Linked DNA regions of Homo sapiens: region 1 is linked to region 2. Evidence: fine-mapped expression QTL. Tissue or cell type: testis. Region 2 holds a variant in brackets; the other region holds the start of a gene. All regions are shown on one strand. Distances are between the middles of the regions.

Region 1 (11,692 bases), 15 kb after region 2:
GCTTCAGAAGCAAATTTATGCATTTCTTTTTCCCCTACATCAGCCATTTCAGCAGAGTTCTCATTTGGGGGAATGTATTTTATTTTATGTTTTATTCCCATGTTGAAGTAAAAAGAACATTTTCTTTCACCACGTGTATTTTTCTAAAGTGAACTTTTCATTTCATATTGTGGATGGCAGCAGCCAGCCCATGTTCCATGATCCTCAGGCACGGCTTTGTATACTGGTCCCCAAACCAGATGAGATGCACTCATCACTCAGCCACCAGGGCTATCAGTCAGAAGAAAACTTGTCGGATTGCTTAAAAAAAAACAGCCAAGGAAAGAACCTCACAGCCAAGGCAAGAACGTCACAGCCAAGGAAAGAGAGGACAAAAATTTAAAGCATTTCAAAAATGCCTTGCTGAATATTTAATGCAAAATGAAAAGAAAGGGCAGTCTCTAAAATTGGACAGAAAAAATGCAGATTAAGAAAAACCATATTTTCTTTTTTAGCATCCGAATAGATTTGTCCCCAAGTTTTTTTAATCAAATGAAAACATCAAATAATTCCAGAAAGCTTATCAAATCTACAACTTCAGAACAGTAAGGCAAACATTCTTGACAGACAAAATATTTTATTGTACAGCTATAATCTAGTCATTTTATATTCCTGAGGTACCTTCCACTTTCCACCACAAAGTCTAAAATATAATAAATGAATCTTATTTTTAATCATCACAGTAGGATTATAGAGGGGAAAAAATTTTCTAGTTCCAGTTTCCTCTGCTTTCTGTACTCCATCCACATTGCATGTCTTGTATGCATTCCAACTTGCTGCATTTTCCGGCTCAAAGCCAATGAATTTGCTGTTCCCTCTGCTGGAAGCCTGCCCCAACCAGCCCTCCACCTCACTTGTCACAAGCCTCTTTATCAAACACATCTCATATGTTCATTCATTCCCTCAGCAACCACTTACAAAGAACCTGCTATGTACCCAACACTATTCTAGACACAGGTGTTACATCAGCGAGCTCATTGGGCTCACATTCTAGGAAGGGAAGAGAGGCAACGAATAAATAAACAAATAGTATGAAGTATGTCAGATGGAATAAGTACCATGGGCAGCACTAATTCAAGGTGAGGGGAAATGGGATACTGAGATGGCAGAGATGGTTTTTTTTTTTACTGTGTAGTTGCTGTGTAGTTTTTGAAAGTGGCATTAGAGAAAGAATCTGAAGGAAATTATAGGGTGAGTCATACTCATATCTGGGGGAAAAGCATTCTAGGCTGAGAGAACAGCAATCACAAAGATTCTGAGGAAGGAGCATGCTTGATGTGTTTGAGGATTAGCAGGACGCTAGCATGGCTAGGGCCAATAAGCAAGGGAGAAAGGGTCAGGGGCTACTGATAAGTAACAGGATCAGATGGTCTATGGGGGGGCTCCCACTCTACCCTGAGCAAAATAGGAGTCATCAGAGGGTTTTGAGCTAAGAAGTGCATAGACTAACACTAGGTTTCACCAGGATCACTGGAGTGCCCGTGTTGAGAATGGATTGTAAGAGGGGAGGGGAGAAGCAGAGAGAGCAGTTACGAGTCTGTGCAGTAGACTATGTAAAAGACAATGGTCTCTTGGAGCAATGTGATGGTAGTGATGGTGATAAGACAGTGCAGGATTCTGCAGATTTCTGTCAAAAAGTAGGACTGATAGCATTGACTGAGGCATTGGCTGTGTTAACTTCAATATGACATACTCAAGGAAACCCAATTTCAGACCAGGTTAAGGCTTCCTGCTATATACACCCAAAGGACCTGACATCTATTCTCATAACACGTTGCATCCTTACAGTCTTTTTGACAGTTTTATCTTCTCCTGTAACTCCAGCTCCCAAAGCAATATTTTTCATGTTAGATGTCTAATAAACATTCTGTGAAATGATGCCTTGAATGCCAAATTAGAGGGTTTGTGCATTTCTTTATCTCAACTTGTAATGCCCTCTGTAATTTACTGACTTGATAAACCCCTATTCATCTGCCAATTATCACCTTCTCCTGAAGCCTTCCATTGCCCCTTTTCCCAAGACAAAGTGAATCCCTAACCCCCTGGTTTTTGAGCCTTGTAGTACTGCATCTATTGCCATGTATTGCAATTTACTTCTGTGGTATGGTTAAAAAAATCAACAGATGTGCTCTTAGCAAACAATTCTATCTAATGGTCAATGGTTTATGTTGCTGCAATGCAATAAACTGTCCTCAGCACTCTTAGGCCTCTACGGCATATGCTATATGCACAAGTACCAGTATATGTGACTTTAAAGAATGATAACAGTGTATTGAATATTTACGTTATACCACACTTTATGGAAGGTATTTGTCTAAATGATCACATTTGCTTTCACAAAACACTGTATGAATAAGAAAAATTTTTAGCCCATTTTACAAGGGAGTAAACTGAGGATAGACTGCTTGCCCAGCTTATACAGGTACTGTCAGAGTGAGAATTCAATCCTAAGCACAAAGACTGTCATCAAACAACCTCTATGCCCTGCTGCCTCTCTCAGAAGAAGCGGGTTGAGTTCTATGTCTAGGCCTAGTACAGATGAAAGATAATAGACACAGAAAATTATATTTAAGTTAAATCAAGTGTTCAGTGGGAATAGAAACACCCAACGCCTAAGCCAAAACTGACAATGTTGACATATAACTTCCAGGAATTTTCAAAAATATGCAAGGCAAGATATTTTTCATGGGATAATATATAAGGCCATCGAATCCATTTAATTTCATTTCCAAAAGATAGGATGGCCTCAAGAGACATGTGAGCTACATTTATTTTTAGTTTCACCTCTTCTAACAAACAGAAGCTTCCTTGAAATAAGCCCTCTGCCTTTTCCATTTTTCATCCCACTACTCAGCAAGTTCTTGTTTAATTTCATGGAATAGTCATTCAAATCTTGCTCCTCTTATGAGTAAATCGACTCAAGCCTGAAGAGATTAGATTACTCAATCCCATCATACAGGTGATTTTTAGCCAAAAGACGCCTGGTCCCTGGACTCCTGTTGCAATGCTTTCTTATCTCCCACCACATTTAGAACCATAAAACAGAGTCATCTACAAGAAAACTAGGACTCAAGAAGAAAGAAAGGAAGGGGGTTAGGAAAAAAAGATGGGAAGGAAGGAAGGGGAAGGATGGAAGGAAGGAGGCAGGAAATATTTATTGTCTTTACTTAATACAACAAACTCCAGACGCAGGTCCAGTTACAAATCCCGTTTAGTGGAAAAATTCCTTCTTATTGATATTGCAGAGTATGTGTCAGCTACTGTGTGGACATCATTCTCATCTAATAATGCTTTTTAATATAGCCATTTTCTTGTTCATAAATTATCTCATTCAAGTCTGGCATTGTATTGAGACAGTAGAGTCATTTGTATTTCATTGAATTTCCATTTCCTAGACTGTGGCAGTAATAATCTCCAACATAAATGACTTTATAACCCATTATTAAATATTTGGCAAGCACTTCATCTGCAGTTGACACATTAGAAAAGCAGAACCAAATCTCTCTATAGCCAAGAATGGAATCATCAACCAGTGAAGTAGATATATACCATAAAAATTAGTAATAATAAAGTCAAGCAATGACCAGTTTACCTGCAGTAGATTCTCAAGTATGAAAGTTATTCCAATACACAGTTTCAAGTTCTGGCAAATTATTAGAAGAGACCTATCTTACAAGGTAGGGACCCTTTTGCCAACCTCTACTCCCTCTACAAGCCCAAATTCCCCTGAGACCTCTGCCCCTCTGCTCCCCACCCAACACACAATGCCATATATATTTCGTGAAATTTCTTCACTTGCGTTTTGATTAATTTGACTTTAACTTTCATTGCCCTTGACACCAATTCTTTGCCTGAGAAAGGCTAGACATATTTAATAAATAGCTACAGGCTAAATTAAATTCAAGCATTAGTTCAATGCCCTATCACTTCTGTGAACACTTCTTGCTTCAAGTGTCTAGTCTGCTGGAGATGGATTGAAAGACACACTTCTTTTTGTCCTCAACTAACCTCTGAGATGCTTTTGGCTGCAACCCAGGGCCATTAATCTCAGTGATATATTCTTCATCCGGATGCATCATCTTTGTGTCTTCTGGTAGGACTATTTGAGGAATGTTCCTAGACATTCATTTTCCTAGACTCTGAGTTTCTCTGCAATCTGGCCTTGCTGACTGGGTAGATCAGCCCATGCCATAACTGCCATCAACTTATTTCAGGGCGGGAAACAAGATTCCAGAACACTTCTGAGCAGTGACAATGGGCATAGTCACTCGTGTTCTTTTCTGGACCAGCACCTCATGAGTTCACCTTGCTACCATCGAGGAAATCCAGAACAACTACTCAAGGACATGTCTGAATGAGTCACTGAACCATGGCTCTGTGAGGTCAGCTGCTCTCTGATCCACTCGCTCCTCAGCTTAAAGACATGGCAAGTTCCAGCCAAACTTGATCACCCATCCCAACACATAGCAGTAGCTTTTAAGCCTTAAAAGTGATCAGAATGATATGAGGCAACTTGTTAAGTGCAGATTCCTGGCACACACTACTAGAGACATCAAATTGAGTGGTTTGAAATGATGACAAGAGAGCTAACACTTTAACGAGTTGTTTTGAGACAGGTGGATTTGGACTATAATACTGTGAAAATTACTAGCCTTCCGTCTGTGCTGCATGCCATCATGTTTTCATTAGTTTCACACTATTATTCTTGTGAATCAATGGAGATCAATGGAGTCTACTAGTAGGGATTCAGTAGACCTTCCTTTTTCAAGTAGCTAGAAGGGAATGTTGAGGAGAGTCCATTTTCAGGGTACAGTTCTCTGCTGTCTGTCATATTAGCATATATACTTGTAATAACTGGTTTAATGGTATTTACTCACTAATTTTACAGTTACTGCTTAATTGTACCAATAATTAAGTTATACATATCAGGTAATTTTTTAAAGAGTATTAGTTTGCATATTAAAACCCAAGGAATTATCGCATTATAGAAAATGTCACAAATATAAATATATGATAGAAATATGTTTTAGGGAAAGAAAAATAAGTCTACAGTTGTAAGATATTGAGAAACGAGGGCATAACAGTTTGGCCTTTATCTTGGTTAATAACCTGACCTCAATGGTTCTTCTGTTTGATTAAAACTAGATAGTTTCTTAAAAGCTTATTTTCTGTTCTCATATTTTATCTAACCTCCTAGGTCAAAGATAGTGAGACAAAAAGGAATTGCTCAAATACTGAGATGCATGTCAACTCTTCCAACAACCTCCAGAATTTACTGAGCCTGTAACACAGCTTTTGTAATCCTTTTCTGTGAAATCCAGTACTGTGTCAGCTTCGTTAGGGTCTAAAGTGTACCTTTCATAAAGGACCTCAAGATTTATTTTCCTGAGCTTTAAATGAGTGAAAATGTGTTTTGTTGAAACTTCCCAAGAAGTAACTGCATTTTCTATGGAATCTTCCATTGTTTATGGGCCTGATGAAAGCATTTGGCACTTAATGATTCCCAGACTATTTCAACTTTATAAAAAATCAAGAAAAAGAAAAAAAAGGTGAAAAGTAAATGTTTTGAATGCTAACAATAAAATATGTGGATTTTTAAACCTTACAAAGAAATGAATGCAATGATTTGCTTCAGATGTTATGAAAAATTTTAATGACTGTTGACCTGTTCAAATGAGGAAAATGAAACATGAGAGAAAGTGACTGAGAACAAGATATCCAGGTGGCCCTCTGAAATTCAAGTCTGTTGCTATTAGCCCTGGTTTAATTATCTTCCACTCCCTCACAGTCAGTTTTCCCATAAATGTTAATACTCCCTATGGAATCTCAGCCCTTACTTTGGTTAGACCATTTGTCAGTACTCTAAGTTCTGTATTCTGCTCAACATCTAGCCAGTTAGAGACACCACACATAGAGCATAGTGACAAAGGGTCAATTTTGGACAACTACAACCTTTAATTTGAATTTATTATAATTACAGAAAAAACTATTATAATTTTCTCCAAATTATTTTGGGCAGAAGAAACTAAGTAGTTTATCTTTAGCTGATGCCACCAATTTAAAATTGACTTCAGAATATTTATTATATGATAAAGGCGACTATTTGTATGAATGTAACATTAAATCCCCTCATTGCTAAGATTAGGTTATATGTAAAGTATGTAGAAAGTACAGACAATACCTTCTGTTAAAGGATTTTTATCATTTAAATATACCTTCAAATGTAAGAAACCTATTAGTATGGCTTGATTGCAACACTACAGCCTTCGTTTTATTAAACAGGAAAGCCAATGGAGTTTACCCAATTACTTTGTCAACACGGTTTAAGTTTGAAAGAGAAGATAAAACAACAAAAATTCTGGAGTACAGTGTTATAGCCCAGATTCCTTTAACTCCTGATTTTTCTATTGCCAAAATCCAAAGTTTAGAAATGTAAGTGAACAAGCTCTGAAGACTCATTATTTACTATTTGAGAAGTATCTAAAATGTAGTGAAAGCTGAACAGAATTTCCTTGGAGCTCTTACTAGCAACATATTAGTAATAGCAATGATTGATTTTCATGCCGTTCACTCTTTCTTCACATCTCCTCTGCCTTCTCGCACCCCAAATCCAATAAGTGTCTCTACATTCTACCCTGGTCTCTTTTTTTATTTTATTATTATTATTATTTTTTGAGACGGAGTCTCGCTCTGTCGCCTAGGCTGGAGTGCAGTGGCGCGATCTAGGCTCACTGCAAGCTCCGCCTCCGGGGTTCCCACCGTTCTCCTGTCTCAGCCTCCAGAGTAGCTGGGACTACAGGCGCCCGCCACCACGCCTGGCTAAATTTTTTCTTTTTTTTTTTTTGTATTTTTAGTAGAGAGGGGGTTTCACCATTTCAGCCAGGATGGTCTCAATCTCCTGACCTCGTGATCTGCCCACCTCGGCCTCCCAAAGTGCTAGGATTACAGGCATGAGCCACCCCGCCCGGCCTTACCCTGGTCTCTTTAAATCTTCCCAATTCAATGACCTCTTAGAAATATGCTCCCTGACAATAATGTATGCTCCAAAATAAACTCCCTCTGATTCTTTTTATCTTTCCAATAATCTATACTCTTTGAATCTGAGCCAGCATGTAGCTAGAAATTTGGAATAAAATATCTATATTGGTAAACAGTGGTTTCTTTTTAAGTGGAAAAACCAGTGTTTTCTTTTTAAGCAAAAGGATAATTTATTGGCTGCTTTAATTAGGAAATCAAAGTAATTGTATAACCTTTAGTCACAACTAGATCCAGAATTGTGAAGAATGTCATTAAGAATCTCTCACTCCTCTGTTTTTCACTCAAATCATTTATTTTTAGCCACGTTCCATCCATGAACAATCAAAATAGCTCTGGAATGCTGTAGCTTTACGTGATACTTAGTATTTGCAATCTCAGAGGAATGGAGATCCTTTCTCCCCTGGTATACATATAATTTCCCCCAAAAATGCCTTGATTGGCTCTGCCTGGATTATATGGCAAAACTGGACAATCACCAAAGCCAGTGAGATGGGATCAGTGATTAGTTAGCAGAGATCAATTTCCATTTCTGTGGCAAGCAACTAGGTGTTGTGATTGAGAAACTACCATTTAGGAAAGGGGAAGCTCACAAAAGGAAAAGAAGGGCCATTTTCCGATGCCACCTCTGTGGACTGAATGACCTGTTCACTATATTAGAGATGTTTTCATTCCTTGAGAAAATTTGATACTACAATTATTTTCCATTGAGTGAGATTGCTGGTAATGTCACTGGGATATTGAAAAAATCATTTTACCAAAGGACCCTTCCAGAATCCCCTTAAGGATGGCTCATCTTCTTTTGCTTTTTATTTTATTTCCATGATGATTTAATTCCAAGGTTTGCTGCTCTCTGAAAATATAAGTGAATTTATCGCTTTTCAAAGAACACTTGAGAAACGAATCAAGAGTCAAAGAACCAAAATACACACATACTTCTCATCTGCATTGTAGTCATAGGGACAAATTTTCTGAGAAGTTGGTTTCCAGTTCATTTCTAAAGCATTGCTATAAAAAAATCATTCTCAGTAAATACATCATATCATTATTGTTGAAGTAAATCAAGGAAAAAGGAAAAGAAATATGGAGGGTACATATTATTTTTCCAAAATACAGTTCTTCAACTTCCATCTCATACCCCTGGTGAAAGATTATCTTTACTTATTATGTTATAAATTAGGCAGAATCTTGGAATTACCTCACACAAAACTACTCTGACAGCCTCTTTGAACCTGACATAGTTTAGACTATATTTATTCATTTGGAGCCTACCTCTTCTCTAAAGATAATGAATTCCTGACAAAGAGTCAGAGCTTTTAGATATTTGACATCAGGTAAAATCTTGCCCATTTTTTTCTAAATAACTATAAAATCTGGCATGAAATATTTAGGATCTTAGATTGTAATTTTTAAATAAATACTACCCATCAATAAATTTGTATGTTAAGCACATATGTTGAGCTTGGATTCAAGGATGCTGCGGGCTAAAGTATTAATAGTTTAAAGCTGGAGCATCATCAAATGATGCTGAGAATGATGTTCCACCATTACATAGCATTGGAATGCAGTATTAAGAATTTACTATGAGACAACATAGCTAAAACATTTCAACAGAACAGATGATCATATTTGTAACTTCAATTAATATCAAATGCCAAAACTTCTCAGTGCTTTGCAAATTCTGTGTACTGTTAAATTGTCCAATTATTATTTCAAAGCTGTGGTGACACTTCTCAGTCCATCCAGGCACACATCTCTCTCTATCTCTGTCTCCCTTTCCCTTCCTCTCTCACTTCAAACATACACACAGATGCATATATATGAAGTCTCTCTCTCACACACACACACAACTTGCAAATACAAAAATATATTCTTCCCATTATGGATTTTCATTGTACTTGGTGGAAAATCTCTTCAGACCATGTGAGACTTAAGACAGACTTTGATCTGGATGTTGATATCACATTGGTTCATAGACATCGGTTCAAAACTCTGTATGAAGCTTTCCACAATTATGTTGTAACCTTGGTATTCCATTCTCTGCATTGCCGTCCAAGTACTGAGGTAAAAGAATGCCATGGCAGTGTTCAGCCCTGGAATTTCCATTAAAAAATGTGACCATGTGCATGGTGTAGATGAAAGCAAGATGCCCTGAAAGCTTTTGTTAAGCAAGTTGAAATAAGGCAGGTTATAACTTTCAGAGTCACTGGGACATAGCCTTAAACAACGAAGCAAAAAAGTAGGTGGATGGAAACTACAGCAACTGCCGAGACAGCTCCACATAGCTTTAAGGGAACTTTTTATCTTTTTTGAACAAAGATGTCAGACTAGTCAGACTGTCTGGAAATCCCAAAAAGAAAAATTTCAGCATACTTTCCAGATGGTAGAGGAAAATATCAAATACAAACCCTATCATATGTTTCCCCATTTTGTTGTGGGGTGTCATGTTTTTACCTATACTCATGGATCTTAATACCAGTCATATTCACTTCTAAATTAAAGTGCAACAAGAAATAGTCAAAGGCAAATATGTGTATATATATATATGTAAATATATGTGTGTGTGTGTGTGTGTGTGTGTGCATGGATAGTGCATGTATATACACATATACATGATAATATCTAATACAGTAAAAAATATACAGGAATTGGATATTCTTTTGTGAATATTTTAGATGATAAAATGAAGCCCCATGAAGTATTAAATTTTGAAATAACTTAAAGAATGTAATTGGATTGTTTGTAACTCAAAAGATAAATGTTTAAGGGGATGGATACCCCATTCTTCATGATGTGCTTATTTCACATTGCATGCCTGTATCAAAACATCTCAGGTACCCCTTAAATAGATACACCTACTGTGTATCTACAACATTTTTTAAAAATTAATTTTCTTAAAAAAGGAATTTTCAAATGTTTATCTTTCTATAACCAAACTGTTAGTCACATTATCACATTTGAAATAATTTTTAATAGAGTTTAAAATATTGTTAATGATAGATTGATTATAAAACCTATTTAGATCTCTGGATATAATTTTCAATGTGCTTTTACATTTTCTACTGCTACTTATAATTATTTATCTTGCTGTAACATCAAAATTTTCATTACTGTCACTCTGTCTGCTCCCGGCCAAACTCCCTACACCTCCTTTCATTGGCCTTCCTGTTACTAGTTTGGATGATTAACAAAGTTGTCAAGCTTGTTAAAAGTGTCTTTTCCAAATTAAAATAATAAAACAAAACATCAAATTAGAAAATATCAGGATAGCTATCCCTAAGGCCATTTCACACAACTTTCCTACACACTGCCTAAGAAAGCCAGAAAAATGATAAAACCCAAACTGAAAACTAGGAAAGTCAATTCAGAAGAGATTCTATATACAACAAAGCAGATTGGATTAAATCAAAAAGTACAATTGATGGTCTAAGTGTGGAGAACCTGCCCACTGAAAGAAAAATGGAAAGACCTGGTAACTTCCTTTTCATCTCTGTCCACTGGGTCAGCTGCGCAAGATACATACCAACAAGAAAACCAGTTACCCCACTACTTAACAGATGGTGCATTCAATTGATCCAAAGCACCCTCTTTCTTAATCTAAATCTAATCCTACCTTCCACCCCAACACCTCAACACACACACACTCATACTTCTTTCATTCTTTTGGAAAATAAAGCCTAAAGAAAGAAAGTAAACAGGAAGAGAATACAATGTGTTTAAAAAAAAGATTGGAGTGATTTTATGACATTTTAGAAAATGTAACCCTCCAAGCTAAGATTTGTAGATGGTATGAAAATTCTCAATAAATTTTTAAGAAGTGGATGTAATTTTTATATATCCCATTGCTTTGCAATCTAATATTTATTCTAAAGATAAGATTTTATTCAGAATTGGGCTAGGAGTTGTGCATACTAATATCAGATAGTACAATGACTTAGTTGATTTAGTTGTGCTAGAAAAATCTATATGATATCAGTGAATTAAGGATGGGGCAGTCAACATGGCGTGTTTATAAGAAACACCAGACCTGCAGACATCTCTACTATTTCAAATAAGAATTAAAAAAAAAAGAAAGAAAACTAAAGGGTCTTAGAAAACATTGCAGAACAGGGAAAAGGAAAGCTCATTCTGTAGGCTAAATACTTGTGCAAGTCACCAAGCAGCCAGAATAATTGTTCAAAAAGTATGGCATTTGCAGAAAAACTCAAAAAGACTGAGAAGAATTTCATGTAAAACAAGTGCAAAAGCCTTTAAAAGATTCATATTTTAAAAGGTCCAAAGTTTTTAAAAGTGAGATAGATTGGCTAGAGGCATTACACTTTCTGATTTAAAAACATATTACAAACCTACAGTAATGAAACCAGTATGGTACTGATATAAAATAGATATATGGACTAATGGAACAGAATAAAGTCTAGAAATAAACCTATGCATGTGTGATCAACTGATTGCTCACAAGGGTGGCAAGAATACACAATGGGGAAAAGATAGCCTCTTCTATAAGAAGCTTTCAGAAAGCTGTGTATACACATCAAAGAACAGAAGTGAATCCTTATTTCACACCACACACAGGAACCAAGTTAACATGTATTAAAGATTTAAACATAAAATTTGAAAT
Region 2 (11,692 bases):
CTGGAGAATTTATATGACTTGCCCAATATTATAGCTAGTCAAGGACTGGCACCTACGACTGCTGAGTTCAAGTTCTGTTTCCTTTGCAAAATTCCACTGTGCTTCTCATTCCTGCTTCTCAGGAATATAAGTCTGCCTTCCAATGGAATTCTGGAATGATCAGAGACACCCAACTCAGACTTATGCTCATATGATCCTGACCTGGAACCAATTTATGCCCTTAGATGTGCAGGGTGAAATCAAAGCCCTCCAGTCTGGGGTTCTCCATCTCTGCTTCAGCAACTTCTAGGACTGAAAGAATGTTCCCTCTTCGTATGTTCAAAGGAGAACTGCAGGAATCCTTGGAGAAATTTCTCTCAGAATCAATTACTGTAGATGAGCACAAGCACTGTTAGTCATGACTCACGAAATGATGAAAGTAAGAAACAGTCAAGAATCCAATAAGAAATAAAATAATTGGCTAGGTTCATGATTTATACTCACTGTCCTCCAAATGTCTGGTCTCTGGAATGGAAATATCTTTCCTTAATTCTGTTATGGTTCTCTGCTCAGGGGAGCTACTGTTCCGGAGATCAATAAAACTCAACATGAAAATTATTCTCTTTGCCACTGTTGGGAAAACTCTTATTTACTCTATTGTTTTTTGGGCATATGTATCAGATTGTTTTATTCAATTAAACAATATTTTGCTTTCATATATATGTGATTCTTACTGGCTACAAGGTAATTGTATAATTAATGTAATTGGCTTGAAAATAAAATGTTGCTTTTTATGAGCATCACGACTTTTTTTTAACCATATCTTTTTCTATGTTGTGAGCTCTGAACACAAAAGGAAGAATTTTTAAATGTCCCCTTTCTTCAGGTTTAGTCTGGTGCTTCTTTATTTTCCTCCTTTTTCCCCTGTTTTCACCTAGCTCTTTGTCACAAGTCTGGAAAATACAGAAAAAAATTACCTTTCTTTCTATTTGCAGACTCTTAAAAAGCTATGTTGGCAATGGTGAATATTTATTTTAAATGCTGTCAGTTTGAAATTTGTTGTCACCTTAATAAAAACTTAAAACAAATGACATAAGTAAACAGAATTTAACCAAAAAAATAAATGAGTCAATGAACATGAATAGAAATTTCTTATTTTATCTGGCAAGCGAGTGAAGATATATATCAGTTTTATATCCTTCTTGAAAGTTATCTAAGTGTTCATCACACACAAAACAATGTTTCCTCCCAAAAGAAAAACTACATTTAAGGAATTTAGCTTAAATAGGTAAAACTAATAAACTATTGAAACTTCTAAATTAGATTTATATTTTTTATGTCTCTTTTAAGGCAGTGAAGGTAAAAATGATTTTATTTCACTTTACACAGTATTAAATTTCCTCTAAAAACTTCCACATAGTTTATACCAATATAAATAAAAAGTGTTTCTTCCAGGAACTTAAAGGAATTACATTTGAACACAATTAAGAAAATAAATGTAAACCTTAATAACCTTACTCATGTCAAATTGTGCTCCAATACACCTAAGTGTCAAATAGTAGTACACACCTCTTTGCTTATTTGTGAACTTGAACTTGATGCAGAGATTACAATGGTTCCTGTGGCGGTGTGGCTACCTCAAGAGGCCAGCTCTGAGATGGGTGTAGTATGCTAAAGATTTATGAGAAATCTTAGAATCAGCACCAGTGAAGGAAAGGGAAGGGAAGGAAGGAGAAATGGACAAAAAAAAATGATGGCTGTGATACAGTCTCAACATTGGCCTCGGCCATCCCTATGCAGAGCTCTAAGGCTGAGATGAACCTCCAGATTCTCCTAGCTGGAGAAAGAGGCCTAAGTGTTTATATCCCATGTCTACCAGTCACTGGGCATAGATCACCCTGGGAAGGGCCCATGATCTTGGGCCCTTCCAACAGAAGGAGTTATTTAAATACATCTACATCTCCTAGCCCAATTTATATACTTACATTTGAGATTTGTCTTTTATCACAGTTATATCACCAAAAATTATAGAAAGAGGAACATAACAAGTATGTTTTTTGGTAATATTAAGAAAAAAAAGTATTCAAGTCAGAAAAGTATCTTATTCTGCCCCCTAACTCCCCATCCTCCCACCCCCACTGATCCATCAAATCCCCCCTAAAAGCTGGCTCTTCCTTCAACCATGGATGAAAACATGGATAATCTTCATAACTATTCTCTCTCCCTCACAAAACTAAAATGTCCTCTGATCACTTATGGCCACTGTTACAGATCGATTTTTTTTGCTGATCAATGTATTAAGATCCAAGCATTTTTTTAAAGAACGCATAATTTAGTTTAGGGTTGAACTTCTTCTTTTCCAGGATTTTATCTCCTTCAGATTATCAGCCTGCTTGGTGGGCTTTATTTTTTCACTCGACTGGCTTCTCTCCCACTACCCAATCCCAGGCTGTTTGTGGCTTCTTGTCCCCTGTTATTGATAGAGGGAGTGAGAGGCGGATGCAATGGGGAGCAGTTTAGTTAATAAGGAGGAATGTATCTGTTCCATCAATTCCCAAATTCTGACCAGCCTTTGTGAAGCCATTCCCACAAGGCTTCAGGTGAAAAGGACATTCTTCCTTTTTTATAGGAATTTATAGCACACCAAAGATTCATATTCTTCAAAGAAAGACTTAATTCTTGATATCCTTGGCCCTTTCAACTCCAACTGTTGTACTCTAGAAATCAATGAAAGGTCAAAGTTTCCAAATCTGTTTTCTTCACCTCTTTTTCAAGTCTTGCACTGATGATGAGGCCTATCCTGCTGGAATGTGGTCATATTTGCCATGATGATTTTGTTGGTGATCTTTAGGACTCGTTTAACAATGAGGCCACAAAATTCCCGTTTCAACAAATTCTCTCTAACATTATTCAAAAGGTAGATGCAGAAGCCATGCATATTAATCACCCAGGCTCTTGTGTGACACAAATTAAATATATTTTAATGCTTGTGCAAGACACTTAGAGAGACCCTCACTGAACTCCCTTACAGGCCAAGCTTAGCTAGTAGCTTTACTAATGCAGTAAAACTTCTATTTATCCACTTAGGTCATTGAGCTAATTTACAGGACCTGATTGTCAAATCAGACTCTCAGGAATCAGAGCTTTTACCTATCAAACTTTACTAAATAATTTCAAGGATGTAGTCAAGGAAAAGGCTCAGAAAACGCAAAGACCTATCTGGATCATCAATGGCAGCTCCCAGATTCTGGTTCAGATTAATAAATTCAGAACTTTTAAAATATTAAACAATTTGAGGGAATGGCACAGCTTTCATGACATGACCTTCCCATCCCCTAGAAGCCATACCTGATAAATCCCAGGTTCTATTTTCCTAGGCAATCCCTAGCTTGGGGCATCCTAGTAAAAGCAGTTAAGAGTTAATGTGTTTCTTACTAGCAAATAACGTTAGTTTTTTACTCAGCAGTTAAGTTGACAGGGAGATTTTAAGGAGTCACCTATCTTCTTTTCTTTCCTCCAGTACTGTTTCTACCATCCACCATTCTACCATAAAGGGAGTGAAAAGATCTCAGGCCATCGACTTTAACACCTTCCTCTCAGCTGCTTAATGCTAGAATTCACTACTGGGGGGAAAGAAAGTGTTAGTTTACCTGTAGGGTATAATTTACAAACTAGTTTAATGCAACAAAAATAAAAAATCAGGGGGATTAGGTGAAAGTAAATGACTCATAACATTATTAGAAGTCTCCATTTTAAAATTAAAACTAGGTTCTCAAGTAAAATAATGAAAAAAAGTTATATATTGGCTCATATTCCTTAAAGGTCTCAGATAATCTTCCAAGGCTCATTTTTCTGCCCTCTTTCTCTGAGTTGGCTCAATTATTTGAGTCCATGTAGCAGTCCCCATAAGCTGCAGGTTTACAGCCAGACCAGAAGACTGAATCTAGCAGAAAGAAAGAACCTACTAGCTCAAACTAAAGGCCTAGAACTGTATTTAGTTGACTGCAATGGTTGACTTGGGTCATGAGCTCATTCCTGAACTAGTAACTGTGGCCAGTGGGACTGGCTATCCTGATCATTCCTAGGAGTTCCTGAAGTGTAGGGAGGGTGCAGCACATGGAAAGAACATGGTGAGGAAACATTCATTCTAGGCAGATGAGATACTGTTGCCATAGAAAGATGGAGGAGAGGTTGCAATCTGAAAACAACAAATGTCTACCACATCCTCAGACAAGAATTGGAGGAAAGGTCAAAGTAGATCAAAGTTAAACAAGTTTTAAAATTACACTATGGGTTTACTGTATACCACAGAGTTTAAAATATATTGAATTGAGGAGAGATTAAAAAACTGTTGATGAGTCAAATAAATGTAAAAAAATTATCTTTGACAGTTTGGCAGAAAGGTAAAGGTAATAGAAAGAGGCAACTAGGAAACCCACAGTTTTCTGAGACCCTGCCCTGAACTTCCTCTAACATCTGCGCTTTAAAATTTCTACTTCACACTGGGTGCAGAGTCTCACGCCTGTAATCCAGCACTTTGGAAGGTCAAGGTGGGAGGATTGCATGAGCCCAAGTTAGAGACCAGCCTGGGCAACATGGTGAGACTTTGTCTCTCCAAGAAGTAAACAAAATTATCCTGGCATGGTAGTACATGCCTGTAGTCCCAGCTGCTCAGGAGGCTGAAGTGGAAGGATGGCTTGAGCATTGGAGATCAAGGCTGCAGTGAGCTGAGATTGCGCCACTGTATTCCAGCCTGGGCAATAGAGCTGGACCCTGTTTCAAAAAAATATATAGAATTTCTACTTCTACTTTTTTTTCCATCTCTTCATGCTCCTTTATCTACTACTCATTATGTTTTGAAGGCACTATCCACAGCCTAGAAATACCAGCAGACTTTCCAAGAGGACTTTTTAAATAATTATGTAAATATATTGTATTTACATATCATGCTGTTTTCATGCTGCCTATAAAGACATACTGGAGACTGGGCAATTTACAAAAGAAAGGCTTAACAGATTTACAATTCCATATGTCTGGGGAGGCCTCACAATCATGGCAGAAGGCAAGGAGGAGCAAGTCACATCTTACATGGATGGCAGGAGACAAAGAGAGACCTTGTGCAGGGGAACGCCCATTTTTAAAACCATCAGATCTCTTGAGACTCATTTATTGTCACAAGAACAGCATGGGAAAGTCCTACCCCCATGATTCAATTATCTCAGGCTGGGTACCTCCCACAACATGTGGGAATTGTGGGAATCGAAATCAAGATGAGATTTAGTTGGGGACACAGCCAAACCATATCATATGTATTACATCATTAACCTTATCTTAAATCTATGTACCCTCTGTCTCACCTATCTCTGAATATTTTTAATGAGAATAAGAATAACAATAATATTCCTCCTTTCATTTTCTTTCTTTGTTTACTTCAATGCAATCATGGATGCATTTCTTGGAAATGTTAGTCATGTTATTTTAAGTGAATTTTCCAGCACAAGTTTAAAGATAGACATTTGAAAGATAAAAATCTGTTGCTAAAGGATAAAACTTTGCTTAAAGTAAATTCTGTGAAAATATTTAATGAAAAAGTCAGATAGTTTATTTTCTAAAATATTTGTTTTCTGCTGTGCAATCTTTAAAGAGGTTACCAAAAAAGAAACAAAACAAAACAAAAAAACACCAAAAACCCGAAACTGAAAAATGTACCAGAGAAGAAAGGGAGCTGGCATACTTCAGTATTAGCAAACTTAATTTAGAATGGTCATATGTCAGACATAGAAAGTACATGGCCCGGTAGAAGGTATCAGCTGAGAAGGCCCACTAGTTGGCATTTGCTTTGTCAAATGACTGCCAGCCAGGATCTGACCTTCAGGGTG[C/T]TAACAAAATTGGAAAGCAGCTAATAGACTCAGAAAACCAAGCTCATAAAATAGTGATCAATATGACTCATGACTACTGTCCCCAAAGGCAGTCTCTGCTCTAACCCCATGCCAAATTTAGAGCTAGACTCAGCACTTCTTTGCTTTCTCATTGAAGCTCTACTTGCACGAAATCCTGTATTATTGAAGTTGATGCTATTGGATATGTTAGAGAAGAGATGGAGAAAGAGGTTTTACTTTGCGCACCTACAATAATTTGAGCAAAGCATCTTGAAAACATGTAATTTCCATAAAATTTCTCTTCATCATGACTGCTCAAGGAGGCTCCTCTTCTCTTTGACTCCTCCCCTCTGGCCTTCTGTGGCATAAAGCCCAAAATTAAGGCTCAGATATGTGCCATCTTGACATCTATTGAAAGGCCTTCCAAGGGCCTAAATACACGTTCCCCTCCCAACTCTATGGATAAGGTCCACTAGCCAAAAAACCCTCCCTATCAAAAGGACCAGGTGCACTCCCTACTTATCCCTCAGTAGCAGGTTTCAGTTCCCTGCCAGCGAAATTATTCAAACAAGCTAGTCACATCCTCCTGGAACCAGTGGGTACTCCAACCTCTGGATACTACAATACCACAATGCCTGTCTCCCACAACTTCTGGTTGTCCAAGTGCAACCCTCATGTGACCCTGCACATCATGCTATACCCTTCTCCCTGGGCTGTGAGTATATACGACTCGTAAATTGCCACCAGTTTCATCTGCCCACTAACAGATGTTGTTTGTTGGGCTATCCCCATAACTCTAAGATGGGAATGTAAAAGGTGATTAAAGTACCATCCCATCAGTCCATCTGCCTCAAGTATTCTGACTTCCAGCATTTCTAAGCAAATTAGCAGTCTCCTTTCTCCGACTTCCAAATCTTCATTCCATCAGTGTACCATTTCAGGAGTGAGAAAAGCCTCTACGGTGGAGAATATTCTGGGAGAATAACAACAAAAGATTCCTGCAGCCACCAGAATCCACCCTGCCTTAAATTCCAATGAAGATGTTAAACAACTTTTTACGGTTACTGTACTATGTGTCTATAAAGCTAAAGTTCAATTTACAGTGTGAAATGTGACTTCCAGAAGACTAAGCCATTCATATTCTTTACCAGTACTTTTCCATCTCTATGCAGATCTAAAGTATATTCAGAGTTTTTGGTAAAAGTAGAATCAGAAAAATTGAGATTACTTGTATGAGTTCAATATTCACTAGAAAGAGATATAAAATTCCTAACAGCATTGTCTCATTTAGTCTTTACAAAAACAAACTATCATTTATGTAGAGTTGTTATCTCCATAGCACAAATGTTACCTCCACAGCACAGATCCATAGCATGCTGAGAAAGTGTTGGGTAATTTTCAGGATCACACAGTGATGAGTGTTCATTCGGCTTTCCTGCCTCTTTACTAATATGTGACAAAAACTGGGTAAAGCCCTGAGGGTACCATAACACTTGTTTATTACAAATTCTCCTCTGATTCTGTCTTCCCCAGTATATGGTAACCTTCTGAGGGTACACCTTACTGCCACACTCAGCATGCGCCACATAGTAGATGTCTGTATATAATCCATAGAATGCATGGATGACTACATGAATGAATATTCAAAAACATCCATTCATCTCTAGAACCATACAGAAAATATGGGTGAATTCAATTTATCAGATTTATATGTCAGTGTGTTCCCTCAGGGTGTATCCCTAATTCACAGTTACAACTATTTTCTCTTATACTGTTTTCCTTTTAAGTTCTAGACATGACCAACAGGATCTCAAGATCTCCCCTGTGGGACTGAACCAGATTTACCTTTTGCAGGTCTCAATTTGATAACACACCTTTGTTTGACCTCTTTCCCTTACTTCTTGCTTCTCTACTCAAAACTTTACATTTCTCGGGGAACTTTTCCTAATAGGTAAAGTGCATGGAGCCTCATCTCAGGGTCTACTTTTAAGAAACTCACCCCAAGACACCACCTCTCTTCAACAGAACACAATTTCTCTTTAAACATTCTAAAACTAACCATTCTTGATTAGCTTTAAGCATGCTATTTTGGCCAGGCTTGTCTTGATTCCAGCAACAGAAATATTTCATGTTTATGTTACCTTTTGCACGTGTCTAATTTTATCAGTTGTGTGTTGACTTTATAATTGAACTTGGTGTTTTGGCTTTTTTCTCCTTGAATCTGCTCTACTGTCTGGAGTGAACTGTCATTTTATCCATGGAAAAATGTATGAACTCTCCTTAGCCTTTTATCAACTGTTTTATTATGCCTTTTATTATTTACAACAACCTGCACTTCAGCAAGACAATGATTATTCTCCTCATTTCAAAAAAGAGACAATCTTGGGCCCAGAGGGAGGCCACCCAGGCATGTCATTTGGATGAACTGGAGCTGAGTCCAGGAACTCAGGTCTCCTGATTCCTAGAATAGTGCTCTTTCCCACATCTATCAATCACTTCTTGAGAATAAGTCTTCACATACTCATAATCACTAAGGTTGTTTTCACGTGTTCTTAAAATCTCTTAACTCTGCCACGTTTACAATCATATACCAAGCAAAACAGCAGATCTTACATGAAACATTAGAGAAGCCTGGGATATTTAATTCTATGCATATGTGGCAAATCATTACATATGCATAGTAAATCTCTTAACTGTCATTTGTAATAGGGATGAAGTCATGAGTAACTTGCCCCACAATGGTTCATCAGTCTGCAAAACAAAATCCAAAACATCTCACAGTGTGCATATGAAGGTGTCTGCAAGCGAAATTGTCTTTTTGGTCTGAAAAACAAGATTTGTATCTTCCAAAAAATGTCTTCTGTTGGACTGCTTACCTTCTTCAATAAATCAGGTTATCATAACCTCACACTTCAGCGTTCTTCTATTTCTGGATTTTTCTCAGAAATTGCCCAGGGCAGGGAAATAAGAAAAATAATCTATATGTTCTTGGCTATAAAATACTGTTATCTTGGCTCTATACTAATCTGGCATGTTTATTCCTTTTTCACATTCTTTATATAAAGATGTGTCTTCATAATCCTAATTTAAAATAATGAATTTGGTAAAGCAATTATAAGTCACCTTATATTAATAGAAAATAACCCAAGGTCATGTAGAAATATATATTGACACTCCTCAGTATTTTAGAACATTTTATCTCAATTACCCATTGGAGATTTTAATTCAGTTGTGCATATTCAAAAATGTAGTTTTTTGATAATTTCCTTTTTGCCTGCAAAGGAGCAGGGAGAATTTGTTTAGAAGTCATATTGCCTAGTCTGTCTGCACAGAAAGCTTTTCTTTACCAACAGGAAAAGTGTTGATATTGAATTAATACCACCATCGTAACAAGAAAAAAGTTAACATCTGCTCTACTGTAAAAGAGAAGACAGTAAAGCTATTCATTTTTTCTTGTTCTAATAACACTCTTTTGAATAAATTTAGTCCTCACTAAGACTTTACAATAACATTATAGTAATGTGAGGCCCATTAAAAATGCTAGAACTTAACAAATGATTTTATTTATTTATTTATCTATTCATTTTTGAGATAGGAAAGACCGTGAAAACAGGGAGACAGGTAAAGAAATCAATAGCTTGATTCTCTACATTTAGATGACCGAGGAAATGTCTCACGGCAGTTGGATGAAGAAGCCTGGAGTTTAAGGGAAAGTCTGGGCCAGTGATATACATTTGTGTCATCAGTGTATAGGTAGTCTTTTAAGGTAGAGAACTGGATAAGATCACTGAAGAGTGAGGATAGACAACAGAAACAAAAGGTAACTTTCAGTAGCATGGCCTTTATTAATCTGCATATTCCCAAGAGCTCCACAAATATGATATAGATTCAAATGATCCATTCTTTTAGAATTAGCATAAAGCGAATCAAACATGGCATCATCCTGTCATAAAAGTTCTCTTCTCCCTACATGTGACTAAAATGCAGGTTACAAAAATTCTAAGTGTTGAGGACTTCTATTCGTGGAAACTTTCTTCACAAATTAATGATTGTGATGATGTCAGACAAGCAAAGAATGGTAAATGGTGAAAAAATTATACAATGCCAAACCATATGATTACCTACAATAATCCTTCCTTTACTGATAGCTGCCCCCAAAACATCTCTGTATCTTTGTAACTCTTCCACATAACCAATAATTTCCTTTCACTTAAAATATGTTCTTTATTTCTAATCACATTGGACAAACCCACTTACAAGCTCTACCGGACTGTGTATGTGTGTTTATACATTTCCATTTAAATATGAACTCCTTAAACTTTCTGTTTACTTTGATCAAAAGCATTGTTTTTGTAGAAACAAAATGGTGACAACACACACATAGTACATAGATGTAGATGACCTGATATTCCAGGATAGATGTTTAGAAGTGGTAATATTAGTCTATCCTAGAGACAGAGATCCAAATCTAGAGATAGAGATAGAGAGAGAAAAACATAGATCTAGACAGACTTTACAAATGATATTAAAGCAATATTAGGCCTATCATATAACGTTAAAATTTGACCTATTAATATACTGTTTTATGTATTTCATATATTGTATTACATATATGATGTACTATATATTATAGTTTTATATGTGCATTTTAAGTTCAGATTGTGATATATTTTAAGTAGGAACCATACATGAAACTGTTCATTTAACGAGACTTTTTTCTGGCACTGATTTGTTACGCCAGCAAGATTTCAGCATTCTTAAATATTTAGATAATTAGATGAGGACTTCTTTTTTCTTTGTAACCTCATGCTGAGCCTCATGGGAGTACTAGGAAAAAAAAAAACTACAGAGTATGTGGATAACAAATCAGTTTCAAAACCAATAAACCCAAATTTATATACTTTATGCAGTGATCATTTATATTCCATTCATCCTTTGGATACTTGAAACGATCCCCCAACAACAGCTGTTACGATAGATGACAGTGTACCACTTGACCTCAATATGGCAGATGTGTGTGCTTACTGCAGCTGTCAAACTATAATAGAAAGAGCAGCAGAATTCTACCAAAGCTATGTCTACGAGAAACCAAAAGTATTTTTGCGTTGTACACAGATTAGAAAAAGAAATCCTAAATTCAAGGTACATAAATGAAATAAATTGGTCGTTTTACAATGTGTGGACTAAACCAATGAATAGTTCATTGTTGTGTTCCAAATAATTGATTTCCCATCATAAAAAAAGATGAATATCTCCTCCCCATTTCTGCCAACTGGCTTTACATGATACTAGGCTCTAGGTTCAAAGGAATGAGAGATCAACTGCTTCTGTAAAAGCCATCACCTCTGATCTGCATCTAAGTTATCCTAAACCTTGCACACAAACACACACCTGCAAACACTCATGCAGCAACACTGTAAATAGAAGACAATAAGACACATTTACATTTAAATGTAATTACTCTGAAAAAAAAACTGATGACAAATGATAAGACAATCACTTGGCAATAATGATTGTTGTTGCCTATTCAGGATTGCTCCCGTTGATCATTTAGATTTCTTTTGGTCCCTTTATAGGTGTTTATGTTCAAAAGAACAAAATAGAATACAGCTTGTCTGAGCTGCACTTCTTTGGTGATACTTTCCAGCATAACTAATGTTGTTTTCTATGTCCTGAAGCCCAAGCTCACCTTTCTTTTCCTAATATGGTCAAGTAACTGGCTGAAAAATCTAGGAAAGCAGTTGGTGAGGATATTTGAAGACTTTTCTGTTTCACCCATGGAAAGCCGACCACAGTCAGGAAATGCATCATACCCTAGGCAGAAGAAGGCACAA

Evidence for each region.
Region 1: LINC02272 starts here. The variant in region 2 is fine-mapped to the expression of LINC02272 in testis (GTEx, PIP 0.95).

The regions. Positions count from the first base shown.
Region 1 is chr4:156,638,218-156,649,909 of GRCh38, forward strand. It overlaps LINC02272 (long intergenic non-protein coding RNA 2272), which reads right to left and starts at 4,286. Exons shown (of 5, transcript XR_001741905.2): 1 at 4,048-4,286.
Region 2 is chr4:156,623,200-156,634,891 of GRCh38, forward strand. It overlaps LINC02272 (long intergenic non-protein coding RNA 2272), which reads right to left. Exons shown (of 5, transcript XR_001741905.2): 3 at 11,548-11,672; 4 at 484-1,650; 5 at 1-369. Among named protein-coding and RNA genes, the nearest start is that of LINC02272, 13 kb to the right of the region's middle. RefSeq lists an enhancer at 10,999-11,500. The variant C/T (reference allele first, on the strand shown) is at 5,859.